Linked DNA regions of Homo sapiens: regions 1 and 3 are each linked to region 2. The links come from fine-mapping of genetic effects on gene expression. A gene starts in region 2. Each other region holds a variant in brackets. All regions are shown on one strand. Distances are from middle to middle. Region 1 overlaps SH3GL1 (SH3 domain containing GRB2 like 1, endophilin A2). Region 2 holds the start of PLIN4 (perilipin 4). Region 3 overlaps SEMA6B (semaphorin 6B).

What was found. PIP is the estimated chance that this variant, and not a neighbour inherited with it, causes the effect. A credible set is the group of variants that fine-mapping cannot tell apart.
Region 1: its variant is the best candidate, but not a certain one, in a credible set for the expression of PLIN4 in whole blood (INTERVAL, PIP 0.79).
Region 3: its variant is the best candidate, but not a certain one, in a credible set for the expression of PLIN4 in whole blood (TOPMed, PIP 0.56).

What each region holds. Positions count from the first base shown.
Region 1 is chr19:4,359,337-4,365,708 of GRCh38, forward strand. It overlaps SH3GL1 (SH3 domain containing GRB2 like 1, endophilin A2), which reads right to left. Exons shown (of 10, transcript NM_003025.4): 4 at 6,146-6,289; 5 at 4,752-4,885; 6 at 4,384-4,542; 7 at 4,034-4,137; 8 at 3,276-3,400; 9 at 2,993-3,049; 10 at 1,034-2,460. The coding sequence ends at 2,264. MPND (MPN domain containing) reads left to right here. Exons shown (of 13, transcript NM_001300862.2): 13 at 580-742. The coding sequence ends at 666. Among named protein-coding and RNA genes, the nearest start is that of MPND, 19 kb to the left of the region's middle. The variant G/A (reference allele first, on the strand shown) is at 3,621.
Region 2 is chr19:4,515,100-4,522,525 of GRCh38, forward strand. It overlaps PLIN4 (perilipin 4), which reads right to left and starts at 3,387. Exons shown (of 8, transcript NM_001367868.2): 1 at 3,286-3,387; 2 at 3,123-3,190; 3 at 2,455-2,599; 4 at 1,518-1,579. The coding sequence starts at 3,173.
Region 3 is chr19:4,543,206-4,550,631 of GRCh38, forward strand. It overlaps SEMA6B (semaphorin 6B), which reads right to left. Exons shown (of 17, transcript NM_032108.4): 12 at 6,918-7,067; 13 at 5,058-5,240; 14 at 4,822-4,968; 15 at 3,187-3,264; 16 at 3,011-3,069; 17 at 1-1,324. The coding sequence ends at 396. Among named protein-coding and RNA genes, the nearest start is that of LRG1, 6.9 kb to the left of the region's middle. The variant G/A (reference allele first, on the strand shown) is at 3,450.

The DNA of each region.
Region 1 (6,372 bases), 160 kb before region 2:
CCCCGTGGGCCTCAGGGGCCTGAGACAGCCCAGCTGGCAGACTGGTGACCCTGGTCACCCCGTGGCCACCCCAGCAGGGTGCAGGCCAGATTTGATTGGACTGTGGAGCTTTAAGCTCCGGCAGTGCCGGATGAGGTCCTGGCAGCGGGTTTTGGGAGTGGCTCCCCTGCAGAGGGCCCAGGGTCCTGGCCACCCCTGAGTGTCTTAGGGTAGTGGTTCCTGGTTTCCCTCCACCTGGCATAGAAAGGGACTCATTCTGCTCAGCTCTCGGCTAGCTGTGGAGGCTGTGGTGTCCCCATGGGTGTCTGGAACCAGGCAGGGAGGGGCTGAAGTGGGGGCAGGATCGGGAGTGTGCACATAAGCCCCACCCCTCCACACAGCACCGCTGCCCCTGGGAGCCAGGCCCTCGGTTACATACTGCCCCACTGGGTAAGCAGCAGGCTGTGCTGCGGGACCCCAGCCCTGTGCCTCGGTCTCAGGGGGGCTCAGTCAGGATGCTGGACTTGCACGGTGGACTGTGAGGCGCAGGGCTGGCTAGGACCCCCGGGCACAGCCTGAGGCCCAGCCCCCTCGTTTCAGATCTCCTTGGCCAGCAGGACGCCCAAGGACCAGAGCCTGTGTCACGTCCTGGAACAGGTGTGCGGCGTCCTCAAGCAGGGGAGCTGAGCCTTCCAGGGCAGGGTGGGCTCCAGTTGTCTTGAGGGTCCGGATGGGCTCAGGTAATAAAGAAACGGAAGCAGCAGCCAGCCACGCTGGTCTCCCCAAGGCTGGGGTGAGGGTGGCTGGGTGCCCAGGCTGGTACCATCACCCCAGCTTCCTCACTTCCAGGGCAGGGCATTAACTTCCAGGATACCCCTCAGCCCCTGCACCTGGGAACTGGCACAAAAGCCTCAGGGCCAGTCCCACCCACCTTGGGCTCAGGAGCACCTGGGGTGCTGGAGGGACCTCCTGGGGTGTGTGTGGCTTTGGAGCCGGCCCCTCAGGAAGGCGGTGGGTGGCAGGCCCACCCCTGCACCAAGACGAGGCAAGGGGCTGTAGAAAGAGACATTTAATACTTCTGTTTACAAAATTCAGGCGTACATTTCAGTTTGCCCTGGACCGTGCCCAAAGCTGTGTGCTCATCTCTGCGCCCCTCATGTACTTCTGACGAGGGGGGTGCAGGGCAGGGCAGAGCAGAGCCTGGGGTCCGGAGGCTTCACTGGACCACAGGGGGAGGGGAATGTGAATGTGGCCTGGCCCAGAGAACTCCCCATTTCATCGATTTTGCATTGGGCGATAGAGGAAGCAGATGTCGGGGCTGCCTGCCTTGGTCTAGAGGAGATGGCTGGGGCCACTTCCCACAGGGTGAAGTGGCAGCGGCTCAGCAAGGGGAGCCTGGCCACCAGGGGCTGGGACATGCGCTCACTGGAACCTTTGTGCTTGGCCCTCGGCAGCGCGGCTGTGGTCCCGTGTGAGGTGTGCTGGGGTGGGTGTGGGTGGCTGGTGGTGGCAGCTTGTGCCAGAGTGACACAGGCCTCCCTGGGTTGGGATGGGGGCAGTTAAAAAGCTGAAAAGGTACTTGGCTTTCTGAGGGCGGGGCTTGGGAGGCAGGGCCCTGCAGGAGACCATGTTCTCTGTCCTCAGGCAGATCCCAGCTGGCCTCTGTCCCCGGGCTGCAAGCTGACAGCAGGCCCGGGAGGCGGTGAGGCCCTCTGCCCTGGCCTTGAGGAGAAGGAGTGCGTGTGTGAGGCGGGGGTGCATTGGCCCTGGAGTAGGGCCAGGGCCCATCACCAGCACCAGGCTGGGAGGGATTTAAAACCAGGGTCCTATCTCTGAGCCACCCCATGGGGACCCTCGATCCCATCCTGTTAAGGCTGCGGGACTCGAGGGTAGGCAGTGGGCCGGGCCCCCGTCGGGTCAGGACGGAGGTGGGGGCTGCCCCAGAGGAACATTAGTGTTTCTAAGAGCACCTTAGTGTTGCCCCGCCTCGGCCAGCTGGGCGAGAAGTTGGGGAGCGGGGGAGGAGGCTGGCGCCATGGAGTGGGGAAGGGAGCCGTCACCGTTGGGAGTCAGCGCTAGTGTAAACAGGCATCCCCACCCACCCAGATAAGCCCCCCCACCCAAGTGTGGGGTCCTGCTCAGGGAGTACCTCAAGGGCCGGGGCCCAGGTGGCGCCGGCAGGCTCAGACACCGCCCTGGCAGCAGGGGCTCCGTGGAATGCAGGAGACCCAGCAGGGGGTGCCGGCCAGTGTGGACGGAGGGGCGGGGCGGGGACACGGGTGAGTCACTGCGGCAGGGGCACAAGCACCTCCACGTAGCTGAGCGGGAAGAAGCCCGACTGGCCGTCCAGCATGCCCTCGTACCAGTTCTCATCGATCTGGTTGGTCAGCGTGATGACGTCGCCCTCATGGAAGCCCAGCTCCCCGTCGTTCTCGGGCTCGAAGTCGTACAGCGCCTTGCAGCTCGGCTGGTCCAGGGGCGCTGGGGGCGGGAGCGGGCTGTGGGGCTGGGGCTGCTACGCCTCACCCCGCCCAGTCTGGGGTCTCAGACCTGCTGTGACCTGGAGCGTGTGGGTGGGCATGGGCCTCCCCTCTGCCCTGCCTGGGCCACCCCCTGCCCCTGCCACTTCTGGGGTCCGGCCTCTACTGCCACCCAGGAGGGAGGATGGGAGAAGCTTGGTTTAAGTGGTCACCAAAGCTACTCCTGGGAAGTGCTGGGGACACCCGGTGCTGCTGCGGTGACAGGGAGTGACCAGATGCCCTCAAGCCCTTGTAGCCACCACACAGCCTAGAGCTAGCTGGGCTAGTGCCCTTGGCAATCCCTCATTCACACTGTGAGGCTGAGACCCAGAGGGGTGGCATCTTGCAGGCTGTGGGGCCTGTGCCCCCTACTGCTGCACGAGCCTGGCCCCTCCCTGCTTGAGATGGGCAGAGAACAGGGCGGGAGGAGAAACACCCTCCCCGAATGGCCGAGAAGGCAGCACTGAGGTCGAGGCGGGCCTGGGAACACTCACGCATGCTCCGGCTAGGGGTCCGGATGGGCTTGTCGGAAGATCGGAAAGACGATGAAGCTAAACACAAGCAAAACGAGGAGGCTGTGGGCTCAAAACGGTCGGGCAGGGCCCCTTCTGCAGAAGGCTGGGGCCAGCCCTTCCCGTCTGCCTTGGCGGTCCAGATGGAGCACGGCTGAGAGCTGCACCCAGGAGTCTGGCGCTCAGAGACCCAGGACAGGGCCAGCCCTTGGCCACTCCCACCCGCTGGCATTTGCCTCCGCAAGAGGGCTCCATGCCCCATTACCTGCGATCTTGGGGGCTGTGGTGCAGGGGAAGCCCCCGTTGGACTGCTCAGGCTCTCCAAGGTCAAAGGGCTCCCGGGGCTTGGGCTTATACTCCCGCTTAGGGCGTGAGGAAGCTTCCCGCATCCTGTGAAGGGAGAGGCGTGAGTGGACCGAGCCCGTGTCACGGCCGAGGCAGCCCCACTCTTGTATTTATGCTGCTGCCTAATGACCTGGCCTGGGACTGCAGGAAGAGGCCGTCAGTGGGGTTGTGACACATGGACCCTGGGACACAGCTAGACTGGGATGTCTACCCAGAGGGCCTCCAGCCTGGACCCCCACCTTGGAGGCATCCCAGAGATTGCCAA[G/A]CAGCTGGGGCCTGCCACAGCATCTACCTACAACACCCCCAGTCGCATCCCCTGCCTCCTCCCCCAATTCCCCACCACGGACGGCGCCCCACATACGCCAAGGCCCCTGAAGCAGGTCTGGCCTCTGCATTCAGGGAGGGGAGCCTGGGTGTTCCTGTGGCAGCAGCAACGTGCAGCCAGGGAGGGAGTCCCCGGGGCCTGCATCGGGGCAGGGCTGGGTGTTGACTCAGAGTTCTCAGAGCCCCAGCTCCTCTGACCTCGCGGCCCCCCAGGCCTTTCCACTCAGTCCCCAGGAAGAATCCAGGATGCTGCTCTGCCATGTGCTCACCCCACAGCGAGGTGTGCTGCCCACTTGCGCTGGCAGAGGGCGCATGGCAGCCCAGACTCTGGAGAGACCAAGGCCCTGGGCTCACCTGCGCTTGAGCTTCTCCGCCAGCTCGTCCAGGATCTGCACGGCCTGCCGGTGGTAGTCCAGCTGTGCATCCACCAGGGCCGAGAGCTGACTCACCTGCTCGATCTGTGGGGACAGTAGGGCTCAGGGGCTCCTGCCAGTGCCACTGTCCTGTGCCTTCCCTGACTCCCGAGGTGAAGCCACAGGAGGCAAGGGGGCTGAGAGGGGACAGGGGACTGGGGCCCATACCCTCCACCTCCCCTGCTGCAGCGGCCAGGTAGGTGCCGATCTGTCCTCCAGCTCCCTTGAGGCACCACCCCGGCCTCCCAAGGGCATAGGTCTTCTCAGGATGTGACACCCCGAGCTACTCACGTCAGTCTCCAGGAGGTTGTGCATGCTGGTTTCTGCCACCTCCTTGGACTCCTCGAACTTCTCCAGCGCCTGGCGTAGCTCCTCATCGGGGATCTTGCCCTGCCGCTTCTTCTTGTAGTCAAAGTCCAGGCGGCGGCCCTCCAGTTTCTTCAGGTGGTGCTGGAGACGTGGGGGACATGGGTCACACCAGTAGCGGCCAGAGGGCCGCCCCACGCATGGCTTTGACCCACTGTCCCTGCACCACTGGGGATCCTGCCTGCCTGAGACCCAGAGGGCAGTGCCGAGGCTGGAGGTGAGGGTGGCAGGAATGGGGCTGCCCCATCCGGCAGGGGGAAGGGACAGGCCCCAGGCTGGCGCAGGAGCAGCACCTGGATCTCCTTCAGGTCTTTCTCGCACAGGTTCTGGAGGGGGTCAATGAAGTTCTGCTTGACCTCGATGTCCAGGGAGTCCTTCACCTCTGCCAGGCGCTTCATGGACTCGCCGGCATCCAGCAATGCGTCACCTGTGGAGAAGTGGTGGGGGAAGCCATCATACCGGGCCTGGGACCACTAGACTGAGACACTCCTCAGCCTTTGTTTTTGAAATAGCGTTTCACAGGCTGGAACGCAGTGGCGCTGTACCAGCTCACTGCAGGCCTCAAACTGGGCTCAAGCCATGCTGGCACCTCAGCCTCCCAAGTAGCCGGGACCACAGGCGTTCACCCCCACACCTGGATCCTTTCCAACTTCTTTGAGATGAAGTCTCGCTGTTGCCCAGGCTGCAGTGCAGTGGCATGATCTCAGCTCACTGCAACCTCTGCCTCCCAGGTTCAAGCAATTCTCCTGTCTCAGCCTCCTGAGTAAGGGGGATTACAGGGGCCTGCCACCACATCCAGCTAATTTTTGTATTTTTAATAGAGACGGGGTTTCACCATATAGACCACACCGGTCTCGAACTCCTGACCTTGTGATCCGCCCGCCTCGGCCTCCCAAAGTGTTGGGATTACAGGCGTGAGCCACCGCACCCGGTTTTTGTTTTGTTTTGTTTTGTTTTGTTTTTTCATAGTCTCGGCTCACTGCAACCTCCACCTCCTGGGTTCAAGTGATTCTCCTGCCTCAGCCTCCCGAGTAGCTGGGGTTACAGGCATGCACTACCACACCCGGCTAATTGTGTGTGTGTGTGTGTGTGTGTGTGTGTGTGTATATATATATATATATATTTTTTTTTTTTTAGTAGAAGCGGGGTGGGGTTTCTCCATATTGGTCTTGCTGGTCTCGAATTCCCGATCTCAGGTGATCCACCTGCCTTGGCCTCCCAAAGTGTTGGGATTACAGGCATGAGCCACCACACTTGGCCCCATCCCAACTTCTAACAGCCCCCCAACACTCTAAGCCCAGGGCCCGGAAATTGGAACTCAGGGCAAAACAAAGGATCCTAAAATCCGAATCGATGCTGGACGTTAAACCAGACCCTCCAATGCTCCTAAAAGGGCCTAGGTTTGCCCTTAACAGGTGGAAGGACAGATGCTGGGGGGTCCAGGCCCTGGGGAAGCAGCTGGCTTGAGTTGGGGAAGGTCTGGAGCTACAGGAAGGGGCCCTATCAGCTGCTGGCCAGTGCTGGATGGGTTGGTCTGTGCAGTCTCCTGCACCTCTGCAGCTGGAAAGCTGTGGGGGCCACTGTACGTCCCCGGCACTCAGCACATGCAGGGCCTGGACCTGCCCTGCCTGTGTTGAGGTGTGGCCTCCAGGGACGGTGGGCGTGGCTTCCAGAGAGCACCACTCACCAAAGTTGGACTCGCCGCCCAGCTCCTTCCCGTGGCGGATCATGCACTCGCCCAGAAGCCCCTCCGACTGCGGGTAGCCGGGGTTCTTCACCTGGCCCCGGATCTTGGACACCGTGTTGAGCATGGTCAGCTTAGCCCGCGAGGCTGGGATAGGATGGCCAGGTGGGTGTGGGCTGTGAGGCCTGCACTCCTCTGCCCTGGCAGACTGCAGCCCCCACATCTCCTCC
Region 2 (7,426 bases):
CAGGAGGCAGAGATTGCAGTGAGCCGAGATCGTGCCATTGCCCTCCAGCCTGGGTGACAGAGCGAGACTGTCTCAAAAGATAAAAAAAAATTAAAAAACACAAAAATGAATGAAGATGATGATGGCCTAGGAGTTCTAACTCTCGGGTGTACCTGTGAGGTGCTACTTTTTTTGTTTGTTTGTTTTTTGAAACAGAGTCTCACTCTGTCACCCAGACTGGAGTGCAGTGGCGAGATCTCGGCTCACTGCAGTCTCCGCCTCCTGGGTTCAGTAATTTTTCTGCCTCAGCCTCCTGAGTAGCTGGTATTACAGGCGTGCACCACCATGCCCAGCTAATTTTTGTATTTTTAGTAGAGATGAGGTTTCACCATGTTGGCCAGGCTGGTCTCAAACTCCTGAGCTCAACTGATCTGCCTGCCTCAGCCTCCCAAAGTGTTGGGATTACAGGTGTGAACCACCGTGCCCGGCCAAGGTGCTATTTTAATTCAGTAGTTTTCAACTGGGTGATTCTGCCCCCAGGGGGCACTGGGTGATGTCTGGAGACATCTGTAGTTGTCACAACTTGGGGAGGCTCCTGGCATGGAGTAGGTGGAGACCAGGGATGCTGCTCGGCACCCTGCAGTGCCCAGGATGGCCCCACCCCAGAGAATGATCCAACCCCAAATATCCACAGTACTGAGGTTGAGAAGCCCGGAAATTGTATTCTCAGAACACATCTCCCAGCTTTGGCTCAGGTGGGCACCTTGGGCCCTGTAGTTGGAGAGACCCAGGTTCAAGTCCCAGCTTTTTACCCTCTCCTGCTCCCGACACTCGCTGTGTGGCCTTAGGCAAGCCACATGCCCTCTCTGAGCTAATATCCTCATCTGGAAAATGCTGATTAAAACAGATCCTCTTGCCAGGCGCAGTGGCTAATGCCTGTAATCCCAGCACTTTGGGAGGCTGAGGTGGGTGGATCACTTGAGGTCAGGAGTTGGAGACCAGCCTGGTGAAACCAACATGGTGAAACCCCGTATCTACTAAAAATACAAAAATTAGCTGGGCATGGCGGTGAGCACTTGTAGTCCCAGCTACTCAGGAGGTTGAGGCAGGAGAATCGCTTGAACCTGGGAGGCAGAGGTTGCAGTGAACTGAGATTGTGCCACTGCACTCCAGCCTGGGTGAAACAGCAAAACTGCATCTCAAAAAATAAAAGTAGAAGAAATAAAGTGCTTACGCTGCTGTCGCTTTGGTCTCATCTTGCCAGGCACAGCCCTGTGTAGACTGGAACCTTACGTGATTAGAGTGGGGTAGCACTGCACCCATTTCACAGATGTGGAAATAGAGGCTCAGAGGGGAAGCTCCGCCTGGGATCCCCAGGCTGTCTGCCTTCCCTCAGGCCCACAGCAGCCCCCCAGATAGCAGGAACTGAAATGTCCCAGGAGGGAGCAGCCCCCCAGATAGCAGGAACTGAAATGTCGCAGGAGGGGGCACCCCCAGGGCTCCTGCCACATCAGACCCTGCCCTGCACATCCTCTCACCTTTTCCGAAGGTTGCAGCTCCTTCTCCGTCCATGGGGCCGTCTGCTCTGGGTGGGCAGCCACTGTGGGGACAGGGGCCGGTCAGGGAGAGTGAGGGATGCAGTTAGAACCATCTACCCGGCTGCCCATTGCACAATAGCCAGGCACAGCCTAAAAGGTCAGGAATGTTTCAGCTACCCCGCCAGGGACAGCAGGAGGTGACATCCACGGCTACCAGCCAGACCTGGTCACCCCCCAACCCCGCTGGGGGCTCCCCCCAAGCCCAGGGCCGCTGTTCCCTGAAGTAGGGCTCTGTGGAACTTCCTCTGCTGGGTGGACACCCACCCTGAGTCCCGGGGTTCATATAGCCTGGCATGGGGGAACAGCCCCTTGCCCAGCCCGCCCCGCCCCCACCGCAGCTGCCTGCTGCCTATTGCCAGGCCAAGGCATGTGGAGCAGAAGTCAGCTGCCTGGGGCTCTGGGCCCAGAGGGAGGCCCAGCTCAGGCGGCTGCCCCAACCCTGGGTTCCCTGTCACCGTCCCTGATCGCCCAAGCTGAGCCACAGGAGGCTGGGGAGCCCCTGGGCTGTGTGACCCCAGGGGAGCTGTTGCTCCTCCCTGGGAGTCTGGATCTCACTCTGATGAGCTCAGATGGGCAGAGCACCCAGCCTGGGCCATGGTGCATCAGAAACGGAGTGCAGGGTGGGGGAACGGCCGAGGGACTGAGTGGGGGGGCATTGCAGGGAGACAGGCTGGGTTGAAAGCCACCTTCGGCCACTCACCCCCCATATTTATGCCTCAGTTTCCCCATCCACCACAAGATGTCCTAGTGTCTGATGAGAGCACACAGACAAATATGGAGGACTCCCCAAATGGCTGGAAGTCCCTGCCCGGGGAGCTCCTTCTCCCAGGTCCATGTGTAGAGTCCCCCCACGCCCCCAGCTGGGCCAGCCACTCACCCTGAGCCTGTGGTTGGGCAGCCTCGGCAGCAGGCGCTCCTGTGGGGTCAGCGGCCGGCCGGGCTCTCGCCGAGCTATGTGCGTTGGCCACCAGGTTCCGGGCAGAGCTGAAGCCAGGCAGGGACCCAAAGAAGCTGCCCAGGGTCTGCATGGGGGCGGGGGGTGTGCAGGATGAGCAGGCCAAGCCTCGGCAGGAACGGGTCAGAGGAAGCATCGATTGATCAGCCCAATGCCGCCCCGGCCCCTTGCTCCTGGGTGACCTCAGGAAAGTGTTTCAGCCACTCAGCCTCAATTTCCACACCTGGGCAATGGGCAGACTCAGCCTGCCTCCCATGCACAGAGGAAAAGATCGTCTACCCGATCTCCAAAGACCTTTTCCTTCCAGGATCCCCACTGCACAGATGGGGAAACTGAGGCTCAGAGAGGGGCGGAGCTGAGGCCGGCCCAAGGTCACTTGCTGGGGAAGGTGTCGAGGTCTGCGTGGGTCCCCCGCCTCCAGCTTGGGTCAGAAAGGAAGGGATTGGCATCATGGCTCCCAGACCGCCCCCACCAGCCCACCAGGGAAGCACCTCTCCAGATTCGAGACCCCAGGACTGTGGAGGTCACCTTCCCCGGCTCTGGGGCATCTCCAGGCCCCAGCAAGAATCTGCCCCATTTCCCCTCTTTACCTTGCCCTTCGGTTTGGGGGGATCCCGTCTCCCTTCGTCTGGAGCAGACATAGTGAGAACGTGAGAAGCTGGAAGGGGGCAGAGAAGGTGCGTGAATGGGGGTTCCCTAGCCTCCCATCCCACACCCACTCCCCACTGAAAGCCTGAGCAGCCCGACACCCACCTGCAGGCCTGGCCTCACCCTGGTGTCACCGAAGCAGACGCGGCCCCGCTCACCTGGACTGCGCGGGGTCCCCTGGAGGACGGACCGGCCCGGCTGGCAGCTGGCTCTACCCTCAGCTCCCTGGCCTTATAGGGTCCGGGGCAGGCGCAGGCCCAGCCAGCAGCGGCAGGCGGCCAATGGGCCCGGGGGAGGTGGCCTGGACGGTCACATGGCTACCTGCCCAGCCCAGCATGGGCCCAGGCCCAGCACCTTTCCCCTGTTTCCTGCCCACAGCTTGCATCAGGCTGAGTGGCTCACAGGCCAGATGGGCTCCCCTCCCGGGCCCCTGAGCCTCCAGTTCCATCCACGAGGTGGGTGTAGTTCAAATCTCTGCTGCACCAGGATGCCTTGGCCAGTTACCATCTTTTTGCTTCAGGTTTCTCTCTCGTACTCCGCACCACGTCCCGTAACATCCAGCTTCTTCTCTGCTCTCATCTCCCCCAGCTTCCTCCTTCGCTTGCTTCATCCCAGCCACACAGGCCTCCTCGCTATGCCTCCAGCGCACCTGGCACGGTCCTGCCTTAGGGCCTCTGCACGGGCTGTGCCCTCTGCCTGGAACACCTTCCCTGCAGGTTCCCACAGGGCACCCTCTTCCGCCCACAGAACAGTGCCTGGCATACATTTGGCGCTTAATACACGTTTGGCTCAATGGAGCAACACAGAGAGTGGTTGTGAGCCTCTGTGAGATGAGGTCATGCACTGAACAAATGCTGCCTTCGCGTTACCCAGGCAGAAGCGGGGTCTCGGGGTCTCGGCAAGGAGCAGGGGGTGTCCTCAGTGTGGAGGGGAGCCCATCACTCTCCGGAAGGGACTTGGGCCAAAACGCAGACCAAGATGGAGCACCAGCCAAGCTGGGGGCACCCTAGGAGTGGAAACCCAGCCTGGGGGGCTTGGGCCAACCCAGGGAGGCTCCCTGGAGGAGGCGTCCTGTTCCAGAAGTGGTGAGGATGGGATTCAAACCCAGACCCTCCTGTTCCAGGAAGTGGTGAGGACGGGATTCAAACCCAGACCCAGGACCTTCGTGCTGAGCCCAGCCTATGTGCTGGGCTGTCTGTGGGTGGGTGGGCAGAGGAATGGCCGTAACGCCCACCCTGGGCTGTGTCCCCCTCCTACCTGCCCCTGAGACAGGGTTCCTAGCCCTGTGTTATTGGGGGTGAGAGGGCAGACCCCATGGGTGGCTCTGGGCACTGGGCTGGGAGGAGGGAGGGTACAGCCACAGGATCTGATGATTCCCAGGCCGTCTGTCTCCTTGGAGCCGACACTGTGTTTGCCAAACAGTGGGGGAACAGAAGGGGGGGTGTCCCCCAACCTCTTCTACCAGCCAGTGCTTCCCAAGGGTGGCTGGGAGAGCTCTGGGTGCCCCTCCCCTTCCCAAAGGGCAGCCACAGCCCAGTGTGTGGAGAGAAAAAATTAAAAAGTGATCATAAACATCCCAGCCAGGATCTACCCCTCCTCTGCCCAGCACCCTCCATGGCTCCCACCTTCTCCGGGGTGGGAGCCCAGGGTCAAAGCCCAAGTCCCCTTCCTGCAGCCCGGTAGGCCCTGCATAACCTGCCTCGTCTGCTCCCCACCTTCCTCTCCTTCTTCTCTTCACTCTGCTCCAGCCACACGGGCCTTTTCACTGTTCCCATAACATGCCAGGACAGAGTCCCTCAAAGACACACGTGACTGTGCCTGCTTAGCCCCGCACACCCTTCCTCAGGGCTTTCGTGTGGGTTGTTGCTTTTGCCTCCAGCACCCTTTCCCACATCCCTCACCTCCTTCCAGGTCTTTCCTCAAATATCACTTCCTCAAAGAGGCATTCCTGGATCTCCTCTCCCTTTAAAAAATATATACCTCAGGCCAGGTGCCATGGCTCACCCTGTAACCCCAGCATTTAGGGAGACCGAGGCAGGAGGATTGGCTTGAGCACAGGAGTTTGAGACCAGCCTGGGCGACAGAGCGCCACCCCGCCTCAAAAGAACAAAAGAAAAAAAAAAAAAAATAAATAAAAAAAATATATTTTATATATATATATTTCTGTTGAGGCGGGGTCGCGCTCTGTCGCCCAGGCTGGAGTACAGTGGTGCGATCTCGGCTCACTGCAAGCTCTGCCTCCCGGGTTCATGCCATTCTCCTGCCTCAGCCTCCCGAGTAGCTGGGACTACAGGCACTCGCCACCACACCCAGCTAATTTTTTGTATTTTTAGTAGAGACAGGGTTTCACTGTGCTAGGCAGGATGGTCTCGATCTCCTGACCTCGTGATCCACCTGCCTCGGCCTCCCAAAGCGCTGGGGTTACAGGCATGAGCCACTGTGCCCGGCTGCCCAAAATATATCTTTAAATAAAAATTAAATGAATTAATGGGCCAGGCGCGGTGACTCATGCCTGTAATCCCAGCATCTTGGGAGGCCGAGGCAGGTGGATCACCTGAGGTCAGGGTTCGAGACCAGCCTGGCCAACATGGCAAAACCCTATCTCTACTAAAAATACAAAAATCAGCTGTGTGTGGTGGCGCACGCCTGTAATCCCAGCTACTCGGGAGGCTGAGGCAGGAGAATCACTTGAACCTGGGAGGTGGAGGTTGCAGTGAGCCAAGATCGCGCCACTGCACTCCAGCCTGGGTGACAGAGTGAGACTCCTTCCCCACCCCCCCAAAGAAAAGAAAAGAAAAGAAAAATCCCAGGGCTTAGCTCAACCCATTCTCTTTTCCTCACCTCTGCTGCAGTGAAACTGATTTCCCTACTGCTGTGCCTTTCCCTAAGCTGTTCCCTCTGCCAAAATGCCTACCCCTATGTGCTGTTCTGATCATCCTCAACAGGCCTGGCCCTGCCAGGAGCCCCCAGCCTCATGTGGGAAGAGAGAGCAAGGCTGCCTGTGGCTATAAAGTCAAGGTGGAAAGGGCAAGAAACCTTGAGAAGGTGGCCTGTGGAGGACCGGAGGAGGGAAGTATCCGGCTGGGATGGAGTCCTGGAAGCCTTCCTGGAGGAGGAGGCATTGAGGCTGGGCCTTGAGGATGTATGAGATGTGTCCGAGGGACGGATGGGGGGTGGGAAGAGTATTCCAAGGTGGCCGCACAGCCTCAGCAAAGGCCCGGAGGTGGGAATGTGCCCACTTCAATGGTAAGAGAGCAAAGTATCCAGGTCAGGCTGGAGGAGGAAGCTGGAAGGTGAAGAGTTTGGTCTGTGGGCAGTGGGGACCTGTGGGAGATTCCAGAACAGGAGCAGGGAGGTAGATTTGGCTGGTGGAAGTGGTCGGAGATCCCAGAGCTGCCCTCTGGACTATGTCCCAGGGAAGTCAGGGGCCACCCTGACCTCACCATACCAAGCTGTGGTTTCCCAACACCCCGCCCAGCCCCAGGGGAGTCGGAAGAGCAGCCAGGAATGCGGTCAGAGGACAGGAGGAAACCCCCGAGACCAGCCTATGGCCCTTGCCCTGCCTCTGTCTTCCCATCCTGGCCAGTGCAGCTGGAGAGACCACAGCAAGACCAGCTCCTGCAGGACCAGGAGGTAGAGAGAGAGCTGCCCCATCTGACTCCTTCCCCATCTTTTCTGCTCCCTGCAATTCCATGAAATTCACCTGTACCAAGATGAGAACAGCTTCCATGCGGCCAAAGGGGCAATGCTGTTGTTTATTTTTAGAGACAGGGTCTCACTCTGTTGCCCAGGCTGGAGTGGAGTGGTTACTGATCCAAGCTCACTGCAACCTCAACTTCCTAGGCTCAAGCGATCCTGCTGCCTCAGCCTCCCGAGTAGCTGGGGCACAGGCTCGTACCATGTGTCATTTTAAAATTTTTCGTAGAGACAAGGTCTCCTATGTTGCCCAGGCTGGTGTCAAAACTCCCGGGCTCATGAAATCCTCCCACCTCAGCCTCCCAAAGTGCTGGGATTACCGATATGAGCCATGGTGCCCGGCTAATTTTAAGTGGTAATGCTTACCCCACATGGGCTGGGCAGTAACGGTGGATCCCAGACAGGATGACAGGCAGGTCAGAGAAGCACCATTCTTCTAGATCTTGAACTCTGGCTCTACACACCCCCTTCTCCATGTCTCAGCAGTGACACACCTCCGTGGCCCCCAGCCCCCTGGGACTGAGACTCACCCTGGCTGGAACACACACGT
Region 3 (7,426 bases), 28 kb after region 2:
CTGCAGCTGTGGCCCCCCATTCCCCACCGGCGTCCAAGCCTCCCCTGCCTGCCGCCACCCCGAGAACGGAGTTGTGCAATTGGTTAGAAAACCGCAAAAGAAACCAAAACTGCAAAAAAAACCAAAACCTACGCGCATAAGGTCAACCTCAAATCCATAGCAAAGTCCTCCCGCCCACCCACCCCCAAACCGTCTCAGCGTCCTGCGGCCCCGGGTAGGGGGAGGGCGAGCTGGTTGTGCTTCCTTGTGGCGGAGGGGGCCCCCCACTCCGCGGGTGGGTCGCGGGGGGGACTTGAGCACCCACTCGGAGTTGCCCCGGGCCCCGGCGTTCTGGCACCGTCTCTCGCTCCTGGTTCCCGTGGCTGGCACTGCCAAGGCATCGGGGGGCCCCCGGCCTAGGGCACGGGGGGCGCAGTCCTGTCCGCCCCCCCATAGGGGAGGAGGTGGGCCAAGTCTGTGCCCGGCCGGGCGTGGCAGCCGCGGTGGCGGTCCCCAGGCCGGGCCTCGCCGCTGTTGAACGTGTGGGTGCGGCGCAGGGTGGCGGCCGGAGGGGCGTGGGGGCCCAGTGGCCTCCTCAGGCTGCCCGTCGGGGGCGGGCTCCAGGGCCGCGGGAGGCCATCGGCGGCTGAGGCTGGGTCCAAGGGGCCCGTGGGCGCGGACACCACCCGCCGGCGGTCCGGGCTGGCGTGGGGGGTGAGCGGGAAGTCGCCGTGGGAGGCGCGGCCGGGCCGGGCAGCATAGAGGCGGCCGTCGGGGGTCGGCTCCCCAGGCGCGGGGGGCTGCTCGGGGGCCCGGGCGGGCGCCAGCAGCAGGAGGGAGGATGAAGCGGAGGCCGGGAGCAGGGGGTGGCCGTGGTCCCAGGCGCGGGGGCCCAGGGCGTGGGGGTGCGGGTGCGGAGTGGGCAGGCGCTTCTGCGGCAGCGGCGTCTGCTCGGGCGTGGGCAGCAGCCCCGAGTCCAGGTCGTGGGGCCCGCCCTGCAGCAGCGTGGCCTTGGCCCAGCCGTTCTGCATCAGGGGCGCCAGCAGGGCCTCCGGGGGAACCCCGGCGCCACCGCCACCGCCTCCGCCCCGGCCCCCGGGACCCTGCGCCCTGCGCTCGCCCAGGCGGCTGACGCTCAGCACCGCCTCGCCCGCCCCGTGCGCCAGGATGGCCTCCTTGTCCTTGCGCCGGGCCAGCTCCCGCCGCTCACGGAGGCCCACGAACCAGCCCACGCTGAAGCCGGACACCACGGCTCCCACCACGAAGGCCGCCACCGACGACGTTACCAGCAGGTTCACCGACACCAGCCCCGCGCGGTCCTCGGAGAGGCTGGCCCGCAGGAGTCCTGGCCGGGGAGCACAGGGGGGTTAGTGGGGCCGGCGGGGTGGCCCTGGGCATCCCTCCTACCTCCTCGGGGCCCTCTGTCCTCTTTTTTATTATTTTTATTTTTTTTTATTTATTTATTTTTTGAGAAGGAGTCTTCCTTTGTGTGCCAGGCTGGAGTGCAGTGGGGCGATCTCGATTCACTGCAACCTCCGCCTCCCATGTTCAAGTGATTCTCCTGCCTCAGCCTCCCGAGTAGCTGGGACCACAGGTGCCCACCACCACGCCCGGCTAATTTTTGTATTTTTAGTAGGATGGGGTTTCACCACGTTGGCCAGGCTGGTCTGAACTCCTGACCTTGTGATCCGCCCACCTCTGCCTCCCAAAGTGCTGGGATTACAGGCATAAGCCACCACGACTGGCCTTATTTTTATTATTTTTTAATTTTTTTTGTTTGTTTGTTTTGAGACAGTCCCCCAGGCTAGAGTGCAGTGGTAAAGCTCACTGCAACCCTGCCTCCAGCTACCTGTTTGTTTTATTAAAGACAGGATCTGGGCCAGGCATGATGGCTCACACCCATAATCCTAGCATTTTGTGAGGCTGAGGCAGGAGATCACCTGAGGTCAGAAGTTTGAGACCAGCCTGGCCAACAAGTGAAACCCATCTCTACTAAAAATACAAATTTTAGCCGGACATGGTGGTGTGCGCCTGTAATCTCAGCTACTTGGGAGGCTGAGGCAGGAGAATCAATTGAACCCGGGAGGTGGAGGTTGCAGTGAGCTGAGATCACACTACTGCACTCCAGCCTGGGTGACAGAGCAAGACTCTGTCTCAAAAAAAAAAAAAAAAGACATGTTCTCACTCTGTTGCCCAAGCTGGAGTACAGTGGCCTGATCACAGCTCATTGCAGCCTCCACCTCCCTGGGCTCAAGCGATCCTCCCGCCTCAGCCTCCCAAGTAGCTGGAACTACAGGCATGCACTGCCACGTCTGGATTATTTTTGGGTTTTTGTTTTAGAGACAGGGTTTCACTATATTCCCCAGGCTGGTCTCAAACTCCTGACCTCAAGTGATCGTCCTGTCTTGGCCTCTCAAAATGCTGGGATTATAGGCAGGAGCTGCCGCGCCTGGCCCCTTCTGTCCTGTTGAAGTTGGTCTGTCTGCCTTCTGTTGTCTCTTCGTCCTTGCCAAAGCCTGCCTGTTTCTTGGTGTCTCTGTTCTTCCCCTATCTCCCTCCCCAATAAATGAGATGAGACCACCCCATGCCTTTCTTTTCTTTTTTTGAGACGGAGTCTTGCTCTGTCGTCCAGGCTGGAGTGCAGTGGCGTGATCTTGGCTCACTGCAGGCTCTGCCTCCCGGATTCACGCCATTCTCCTGCCTCAGCCTCCCGAGTAGCTGGGACTACAGGCGCCCGCCACCACGCCCGGCTAATTTTTTGTATTTTTAGTAGAGACGGGGTTTCACCGTGTTAGCCAGGATGGTCTAGATCTCCTGACCTCGTGATCCACCCACCTTGGCCTCCCAAAGTGCTGGGATTACAGGCGTGAGCCACCGCGCCCGGCCCACCCCATGCCTTTCTAAAGTTCTCTGATGGAGTCCAGTTTCCCCACCCACCTCCCAGAGGATTCGAGGGTCCTCCAGCCTCCTCCCTCCCCTCCCCCATGGTAGTGGGGGATGGGGGTCTTAGCCTGCCGTCCCCCCAACTCACCTGTGCAGTCCCCTAAGCCTGAGGTGCTGGCCCCGGACACGTCCTGCTCAAAGGCGGCTCTAATGGGGAGAGGAGGCACCGTCAGCAGAGGCCCCTCTCACAGTCAGAGATCAGGGGGATCTGGGATCATGGGCGGGTCTGACACACCCTCCACCCACCTCCCTCTCCCGCAGTACCTGGTGCCCGGGCTGAGGAAGATGCAGGAGCCGTCGGGGGCCCACCCGCAGTAGGGGTCCTGACTGCCGATACAGTTCCTAGAGCAGACCAGGGACCGAATGGGACAAGTGTCCAAGTCACTTACACAACCCCAATGGTGATGGTGACCTGTGGGCCCTGTTCCAAGCACCTGCCTCTTTATTTTTATTTTAATTAATTAATTTTTGAGACGGAATTTCGCTCTTGTTGTTTATTTATTTAGTTATTTTTGAGATGGAATTTC[G/A]CTCTTGTCGCCCAGGCTGGAGTGCAGTGGCGGGATTTTGGTTCACTGCAACCTCCGCCTCCCGGGTTCAAGCGATTCTCCTGCCTCAGCCCCCCGAGTAGCTGGGATTACAGGCACGCGCCACCATACTTAGCTAATTTTTGCATTTTTATCAGAGACAGGGTTTCACCAGGTTGGTCTTGAACTCCTGACCTCAAGTGATCCACCCGCCTCGGACTCCCAAAGTGGTGGGATTACAGGTGTGAGCCACCACGGCTGGCGTTTTCTTATTTTAAAATTAAAAAAATTTTTTTAAATTAAAATTTAATTTTTTTTTTCTTTAAGAGACAGGGTCATGCTCTGTCACCCAGGCTGGAGTACAGTGTCATGATCATAGTTCACTGCAGCCTCAACCTCCCAGGCTCAAGTGATCCTCCTGCCTCAGCTTTCTGGGTAGCTGGGACCACAGGTGTGTGCCACCACGCCCAGCTGATTTTTGCATTTTTTTTTTTTTTAGAGACAGGCTCTCACTATGCTGTGTTGCCCAGGCTGGTCTCGAACTCCTCGGCTCAAGGAGTCCTCCTGCCTTGGCCTCCCAAGTGCTGGGATGACAGACGTGAGCTACCAAGCCCAGTCCCTCTTCTTAATAGCAACTTCTGGAGTCCTTAGAACAAATCTGTGTGCAGGGCACTGTTCACTCCCCACTTTACAGATAAGCAAACTGACGCTCCAGAAAGTAAATGTTTGCCCAAGTGGCAGAGCTGAGATGGGAGCCCAGGCATCGTGCCAGAGGCTGTGCCCTTGGACTCGGAGCTACTGGGTCATTGTTGCAATAACGGCGGGCAGGAAGCAGGGTCCTCCGCATTGACGGCTCACATGGAGTGCAGGCGTGTGCCAGCACTGGCATGCATCCTAGCTTTCCTCCCATTTTAGAGACGGGGAAACAGCCTCCACCCTGGTCCCTGGTTCTCCTTCCCCTGCAGTCTCCTCCTGGCAGCAGCCACCAGAGGGCACCTGTAAGCACCTGAGTCAGGGCCAGTCCCTCCTCTGCCTGCAACCCTACATGGCTCCCATCTCCTTCAAGGTCAAAGCCCAAGTCCTCCCCGAGGCTCACAAAGCTCTGCACAAACTGCCTCGTCCTCTCCCATCCCCTCCCCGTCCTCCCCTCCTCCCTCACTCCCCCTTGCTCACTGTGCTCCAGCCACACCGGCCACCTTGCTGTTCTTCCAACACACCAGGAGTGGTCCTGCCCGCGGGCCTTTGCACGGGCCATGCCCTCTGCCCAGCTCAATGACCAGGACATCATTGGGCTTTTGACTGGAACCCAGCTGTCCCTCCCTGTGCCCATCCTCCCTTGCTTCCCGCCCACGGCTGGCCTGGGGTGGACACTCACTTCATACACCCCGAGTACTGCTGGCAGCGAGCCACAGGCACTCGGACCACGCAGCGGGGGAAGGCAGCCAGCAGGCCCCCCGAAGCTGCGTCCAGCTCCAAGCTCAGCAGCCGCTGCCCTGTCTCGCCACCGCCGGGCCGTCCACACCTGGGGACAAGCAGAGTGGTGAGGCTGAGCGCATCTCAGCCCATCTCCCCTCCTGCTGGCGACCCCTTCCCACCTTTGCCCAGACTTACCTGTCCGGCCGGTAGGTCTCAAACTCCTCCAGGAAGACACTGAGCCCAGACGTCCCTGAGGTGCTGGCATTGGGCCGGACGAGGAACTTGAGGACCGTCCCCGCCTCAGAACCCAGGAAGACAACGGTCTGGTTGCCCCAGGGGCCGGCTCCCACGTCCACAGCCACTCGAGTCAGCTGGTGCCTGGGGGACAGGGCAGGGGAGGGTCAGGCTGGCCCCATATCACCACATGCCACCAACACGGGCATGGCCATAGTTACACGGGTGCATACAGACACTGACACACCAACACATGTGACAGCAATAAATGCGTGTGTGCATGGATGCCGGGGACATGCGTGACTACACAGGCACGTGGGCACACTCGCCCTTTTTTGAAACATAACCCCAAACCAGGCTCTCCTCAGCCCTGTCTCTTTGGTTGAGATGGAGTCTCACTCTGTCACCCAGGCTGGAGTGCAGTGGCGCAATCTCAGCTCATTGCAACCTCCGCCTCCCGGGTTCAAGCAATTCTCTTGCCTCAGCCTCCTGAGTAGCAGGGACTACAGGCACACGCCATCACGCCTGGCAAGTTTATGTTTTGTTTTTTTTGAGACAGAGTCTCACTCTGTTGCCCAGGCTGCAGTGTAGTGGCTCGATCTCGCCTCCTGGGTTCAAGCGATTCTCCTGCCTCAGCCTCCCAAGTAGCTGGGACTACAGGCGCACACCACCACACCGAGCTGATTTTCTTTTTTTTGTATTTTTAGTAGAGACAGGGTTTCACCATTTGGCCAGGCTGGTTTCAAACTCCTGACCTCAAGTGATCCTCCCGTCTTAGCCTCTCAAAGTGCTGGGATTACAGGCATGAGCCACTGTGCCCAGCCCCGCTTTCTCCTGATATGTATGTGTGTCTGTGTATCTTTCAGTCTCTTTCTCTCTTTGTCTCTCTTCCCTATCTCTGTCTCTCTGGGTGTCTGTCTGTCTCTGATTGTCTCTCTCCCTGTCTCTCTGTCTCTTTCCCCCTTTGTTCTCCTGGTGTGTGTCTGTCTGTCTACCTCTTTTTTTTTTTTTTTTTTTTTGAGGTGTAGTCTCCCTCTGGCCCCAGGTTGGAGTGCAGTGGCGTGATCTCGGCTCACTGCAACCTCCGCCTCCCGGGTTCAAGTGATTCTCCTGCCTCAGCCTCCCGAGTAGCTGGGACTACAGGCGCCCACCACCACGCCTGGCTAATTTTTGTATTTTATTTTATTTTATTTTTGAGACGGAGTTTCGCTCTTTCGCCCAGGCGGGACTGCAGTGGCGTGATCTTGGCTCACTGCAAGCTCCGCCTCCCGGGTTCATGCCATTCTCCTGCCTCAGCCTCCTGAGTAGCTGGGACTACAGGCGCCTGCCACCACGCCCAGCTAATTTTTTGTATTTTTAGTAGAGACGGGGTTTCACTGTGTTAACCAAGATGGTCTCCATCTCCTGGCCTCGTGATCCGCCTGCCTCGGCCTCCCAAAGTGCTGGGATTACAGGCGTGAGCCACCATGCCCGGCCAATTTTTGTATTTTAAGTAGAGACGAGGTTTCTCCATGTTGGCCAGGGTGGTCTCGAATTCCTGGCCTTAGGTGATCTGGCAGCCTCGGCCTCCCAAAGTGCTGGGATTACAAGCATGAGCCACCGTGCCCAGCCCCATCTGTCACCTCTTGATCCCTCTGTCTCTCTCTTTGTTCTCTCTTTCCTAGTGTCTCTCCATCTTTCCCTCTCTGTCTCTCTGTGTCTCCAGCTCTCTGGGCAGCGCCGGAAGCCATGGGCTCATCTGTGTTGAGCATCTGGATCCTCTCACCCTCCATCTACCCCATCCTGTCTCCCCTCGCCATGCCCTGCCTCTCCAGGACCGACCTCATCAGGGTCCGCAGGATCCAGGGCGCATGGCCCAGCGAGGGCACCGCCTCGTCCATCAGAGGGTGGGTCTTGACAAAGTTGAGGATGTCATCCGGCAAGGCGCTGGAGGCATTGTACTGCATCCCGGGGGCTGCGCAGCACCCGGGCCTGGGGGTGACAAGGGTGTGGTCAGGACGAACGTAAAGGTTCTCATAAAGGGGCCTGATTCACCAGAGGTACCCATTGCTTTGCCCAACGACCCTCAGGTTTTTTGTTTGTTTTGTTTTTGAGACAGAGTCTCAATCTGTCGCCCAGGCTGGAGTGCTTTGGCTCACTGCAACCTCCACCTCCTGGGTTCAAGCGATTCTCCTGCTTCAGCCACCCGAGTGGCTGGGATTACAGGCACGTGCCATCACGCCCGGCTAATTTTTGTATTTTTAGTAGAGACAGGGTTTCGCCATGTTGGTCGGGCTGGTCTCAAACCCTCGACCTCAGGTGATCTGCCCACCTCCGCCTCCCAAAGGGCT